Regions from separate parts of the Homo sapiens genome. Here region 2 is linked to region 1. Evidence: fine-mapped expression QTL. Tissue or cell type: lung. Region 1 holds a variant in brackets; the other region holds the start of a gene. All regions are shown on one strand. Distances are from middle to middle.

Evidence for each region.
Region 2: it holds the start of PCBD1, and the variant in region 1 is fine-mapped to the expression of PCBD1 in lung (TOPMed, PIP 0.92).

Annotation. Positions count from the first base shown.
Region 1 is chr10:70,862,874-70,865,780 of GRCh38, forward strand. All of the region lies in intron 7 of SGPL1 (sphingosine-1-phosphate lyase 1), which reads left to right. Among named protein-coding and RNA genes, the nearest start is that of PCBD1, 24 kb to the right of the region's middle. The variant T/G (reference allele first, on the strand shown) is at 1,309.
Region 2 is chr10:70,886,945-70,889,851 of GRCh38, forward strand. It overlaps PCBD1 (pterin-4 alpha-carbinolamine dehydratase 1), which reads right to left and starts at 1,621. Exons shown (of 4, transcript NM_000281.4): 1 at 1,587-1,621. The coding sequence starts at 1,589. RefSeq lists silencers at 878-1,157, 1,488-1,737.

The sequences.
Region 1 (2,907 bases):
CAGTGAGACCAAGAACCCACCAATTCCGGACACAGTAGAAGCCCATTGGGCTTTTCAATTTTATTTACTCTAATTTCATTCTAAAGAATTCTGTTTTGTAGTTCTCCTTTTATTTTATTATTATTTTTTGAGACAGGGTGTCACTCTGTTGCTCAGGCCAGAGTGTAGTGGTGCCATCTCAGCTCACTGCAGCCTTGACCTCTCTGGGCTCAAGCGACCCTCCCACCTCAGCCCCCTTGAGTAGCTGGGACTACAGGCATGCACCACCATGCCTCGCTAATTTTTGTATTTTTAGTAGAGATGGGGTTTCACCATGTTGCCCAGGCTGGTGTTGAACTCCCAAGCTGAAGTGATCTGCCTGCCTTGGCTTCTCAAAGTGCTGGGATTACAGGCGTAAGCCACCACGCTTGGCCGTCTTTTTTTTTTTTTTTTTTTTTTAATCTGCTTGGTTGTTTTTTATAGTCCTTTTCCTTGGCTTAACTTTTGTTTACTTAAATATATTACACATAAATATGTTGTATTCTGTGTCTGATAATTCCAATATCCATGAGCCTTACCTGATTCTGCTGGCTTCAGTCATGGTTCCTTGTTTCCTTATATTTGTGATTTTATTTTATTTATTTATTTTTTTATGAGCCACTCATTTTTCTGGGAACCTAGGGATTCTTTGAGGCCTAGATTGAAGTTAAGTCTGGAAGTTCTCTTCTTCCAGAGAAGATTTGTCATACCTTTTTGAGTTGCTGGGGATTGCCACCACACTGGAACCAAATTAAGTCAAATCCTTAGCTTGTCATTTTGTACCACAGAGGTAGTGTGAATTCTGACCACAAACTCACATAAAGGCTTCCTTGTTACACATTCTTGAAAGATTGCTATTTTTCTTTACTTGAACATCAGGGTTGAGAAAAACAGTTTTTCTTTTCTCTTTTGCAGTAGTGGGATTTATTTCTTGTACACTGTAGAGTGTGGTCTTTTTCCAGCCATCTCCTGTTGGACTCCTTATCTTGGGCAGTCTCTAATGTATCTTCTGGTCCATCCTTTGCTCATCTGTCAGTGTAGGAGTTTGAAGTCTGAAGGGTCTGGTGCCACCTCAGGGTGAAAGCTAGTTTTGCCACTCACTTATCTTGCAGGATTCTTGATTTTGCTTTGTTTGGGGGTTTAGCAAGTTTCTTTATGTTAGGTTAGTGATAGGTTTAAATTTTTTTTTTTTGATGTTTTATCAAGTTTTTTAGTTATTTCAGTTAGGAAGGTTGCTCAAGGTATATAATATTGCTAGAAATAGAAGTTCCATAATTGTTTTTTCCATGT[T/G]ACAGACCTTCGTCTATTTGAAAGCCCCTTTCTCCCTGAATCTTCTCTGCCCCACATTTTTCTGGGTTACTCCGCTTTTCATATGATTTCACAGACTTCCAACCATCGCAGTCATTCTCTGTATGACTTTTGGTTGCCTCTGGCCAGATTGAACACAGTTCTCCACATTTGGAGTGGCATTGATCTTTCAATCTCTGTCTTTTTTAAATCTGGGTTCAATAAACTTATTTCAGACCTTTTCCTTGAAGTCAGCATTTTTATTCTTGGCAATGTTTATTTTATTCCTTGCTGTTCCTAATGTCTTTGTTAGTTCTGTATGGATGCTACTGGCTTTGTTTTTTTAGGTCTGTAGCTCATTCTTTTTGTTTCATGGTCTAGGTTTTGAACTCTTTGTTTTCTTAAATTCATGTTCTTATGATATTTTCCTATAGTGAGAAAGTTATAAGGGGTTTCCTTCATCCCTTAGCTTGTTTCCTTCTGTGTTGGGTTTTTATTTTGCATGCTACATACTACCTTTTCCCCTGCCTTTTAGTTTGTTTGCATAGTTTCCTTGCCATTTTCTCTCATCTTGGGGTGGCATTCTCCAGACATTGTTCTTATGCACTGTGGGTGCTTCCTGTCTGAGACCATTTGGCTGGGGACAAAGCTCAGCCAAAGCTTTGTTCTATCTGTATTAGAATAACCAGGTCTATTCTGAGATTCTCTTCAAAGTTACCTATCAGAGTTCACTCTCTTATTTGGAAGAGATAATATACCCTTTGAGCTCTGATTATTTAATTCACTGAAGTCTTCACTCTAAAGAGCCAATCCTGATGTTCTCTCTTCATTTTGCTCATTTCTCCCTAGCAGCCATGTTTACCACTCACTCATGAGAAGAAGAAGAAAATAAGGAAACCCCCTCAGCTTGCCTCTGCAGATTTGGGGGTATAAAGGAAAATTCTCAGGATTTTGCTGACTTTGCGGTACAGTTTCAAGGGCTGATTAGAAACTAGTGTTTTGCTTACTTCTGCTCTCTGCTGTTTCACTGTTTCTTTTTTTTTTTTGATTGCCAATATTTGAAGTTTATTGCCTAGATTATCTCTCTTTCCTTGTTTGGTTGTTGTTATTGTAGATTTTGACTCTTTTCTCTCCCTGCACTCACCCTTTTTTTTTTTCTTCCCATCTTACTCCTGAAGTCCAGGCCTAGGGGTTTTTTGCATTGCTGCAATTAAACCATATCTCTATTATTTTGATCTTCAGCACGTGTGAGGGATCAGAAGAAGGATAGAGTCTGATTCCCAGGCTCTTCTAATATTTAGACTTTTATAAAATAACTAATCAGCACTGGTATTGTCTTTTTCCCTCTCCCACTCTGTCTCCCCCACTCCTCCCTTAGCTTCTTACTTCTCTCTCTGGATGAGCTGCTTCTAGTGAAGAAAGAGTTCACTGTTCAGAGGTGGGAAGCCAGAAGATAAAACCAAATGGCTGGGCAGTCTTTAGGTTATTCCTAGCTAAGAGTTAAGAGTTGTAAGCTCTCTCATTCTTTGTTCTTCAGCCTTAAACTATCTTTCCTTCTATTAACTTTATTTGTCTCAGTTACAATGATAGAGGTAACTTCAC
Region 2 (2,907 bases), 24 kb after region 1:
ACCACCCCAGGGCAGAAATAGAGTGCTGAATTGAAAAGATACCCTTAGGGGTGGGGAGGGAATGTGAGGGAGGTTGATTTAGCTTTTATGAGGCAGCCTGCAGACTGGACACCATGTGTTGATTGGCAGGAGTTTTGAGACCCGCTTTCACCATTTACCAGCCAGGTGGCTGTACCTCTCTTGGCAGAACCTCCACCTCCACAGATCATCATGAGGTGCCAATGGGACACTTTAGGAAACTCCACTGCTATAAAGCAAATGTCATCTGCATTACAAAAAAAAAACTTCCTAAGGCAAGCAGGCTTGTGATGGGCCTGGTAGCATTTGGGGTAGCTGAAGCATCGCAGTGCTTTCCTAAGTCCGTCTTTTTTCCCTGCTGTTTTCCCTCCTGAAAACGTGAGCTCTCTCTGGACTGATGTAGCTTGGCCCCTCTCTTCCCCTCGGCTCTGGATGACTATAGGGATTGAATGGCAGCAGCGATTTGCATCATCTGCCCAGTAGGTAGGTCTCTACTCCAGAGCTGGCCTTCTCCCCGTGGCTGACCGCCTGGTCCGTGTATCTAGACAACCAGAAGTCAGCCAAAGCATCAGAGCCCACTGTTTACTTCCTTGGCTCTTAAAGGGGTGGGTGAGTCCAGGTGAGCTCTTAGGAGGCTTCCCTTTCTCGGTAGAGCCTTCTGGAACCCCCCAGGTCGCACAGCCTGCGGCTGAACTGACAAACCTTCCAGGTGCCGGCTCTGGAGACAGAGAGGGGGACGCTGCCCCGTTTGCCTCCTCTGGCGAGGTGTGGGGAGTGGTTACCGATTTCCCAAGCCTGCATCTCTGGGACCTCAGCGCCCCTCACAAACAGCCCCACTCATCCTCCCTCCCCCAAGTCCCTCTCCTATCAAAAGGCCCTCCCAGTCTTGCCTGCTCCGAAGGCCTGTGGACCAGAAATGGTCTGATGAAGCTCGCGAGCTTACAGCAGAGCAAGGGCCCCGCCCCCGCCCCCGCCCCGGGGGTGGGTGGGGGAAGCTCACGGGAGGAGGGCTGCTCCAGCGCCACCAAGCCCCCGTGGCCTGGCACGGGCCTCAAGCCGGCGCGGGGAGTGGCTCTGGGGCCAGCATACCGGCGCAGAGCGTGAGTCCCAGGCAGACCCCGTACCCAGAGTGCCAGCGGGAAGGGGCAGCGGACAGGCACGCACACGAGCGCGCAAACTCAGCCTCCCTCTCGCTCCCACCCCAGTATAAAGCAGAATCGGGCCACCAAGGGGACGAGATCCGTGGACTCCTCCACGACTGTCTTCCCCGGCCCAGGAAGGTCGTAGGCCCCGCCCCCGGAAGGGTCCCGGAACAAGCACTGGCCGGGGTCAGGGCAGGCCTGGCCTCCCAACTGGGTGGGATTCGAACCCGCCACCGCCCCTCTCAGGGCTTCAGCTTCCCCTCCCCGCCGCCAGCGACAGAGAGCCGGGCAGAGACCCCACTTTCGGACCCCGGCGGCTCCGCAGGGGACTCGAAAAGACTTTCCCCCGCCCCTTCCCGCTCCCACCTCGCCCGCGGCTGCCCCGGCCCCGCTGCCCCGATCGCGGCCGCGCACCCCTGGACTCACCATGGCGCGGGCGGCAGCAGGTGGCCAGCGGAGAGGGCAGGCGGCGGCCGGGCGCGCAGGCTGCCGTCCCGGGGCGGGGCCGCGCTCGGGCCGCCCTCCGGTAATGATTAACGTCCCCAGCCAGGGACGCGCTCGGCCTGCTTGCTTCCAGCACTTTCCTCGCTGCTCAGAGCCATCCTCCGTGCTTGTTTCAGGGAGCTAGGGTGAAGCATGAGGGCTCCAAATGCCCGCTTCTGGGTTGGAATCCCACCCCGCCGCTTACAGCTGGGTGGCCCTGGGCGCCAGAATACCTATTTTTTTCTTTATAAAAATCTCTTATTTGGATATAATTGACATGCAATAAATTGCACATATTCAACGTGTACAATTTGATAAATTTTAATGTTTCCCTCGTGAGACCATCACCGAGATCAACATTATGAACATATCATCATCCCTGCAAGTTTTCCCTTGCCCTTTGGTAACCCCTTCCTCCCGAAACCACCTGGCCAGGCAAGCACTGATGTACTTTAGGTCACTATAAATTAGTTTGCATTTTCTAGAATTTTATGTAAATGGACCATAGAGTATATACTAGGCAGGATAACTGTTTTGGGGTTCAGCCATGTTGTTGCCTATATCAATGGTTTCTTCCTTTTATGGCTAAGTAAAATTTATTTTATAGTATTGCATTGTACAGATAGACTACAATTTGTTTAGCGATTCACTATTGGACATTTGCGTTGTTTACCTTTTGGCTATTACAAATAAAGCTGCTGCGAATATGGTGCACAAATCTTCGAAAGTACGTATGTTTTAATTTTCCTTGAGTAAACACTTAGGAATGGAATGCCTGGGTCATGTGGTAGGTGGACTTTTATAACTTATTAGGAAACTGCCATACTGTTTTGCAAAATGGTTGTATCATTTTATATTCCTAGCAGCAGTGTATGAAGGTTGCAGTTCTCTGTCCTCACCAACACTTGATATAGTCAGCCTTTTAAATTTTAATTGGTGTGTAGCAGTATCTCATTGTGGTTTTGAGTTTCCTTGATTAGTAATTGTATTGAATGTCTTTTCATGTACTTATTTGCTAAGGATAAGTTTTTTTTATTGAATAGCATGTTTGAATTTCCTGCCCATTAAAAAAGAAATTGGGTTGTCTTCTTATCGAGTTTTGAGGGTGTTTTATTCTGGATATAAGGACATGATCAGGCAGTGATTTGCAAATATTTTCTTTGCATTATCTTATGGTGCCTTTCAAAGAGCAAACGTTCTTAATTTTGATGAAATCCAATATATCAAATGTTTCTTTTATGGATTTCTATTTTGATGTTGTACA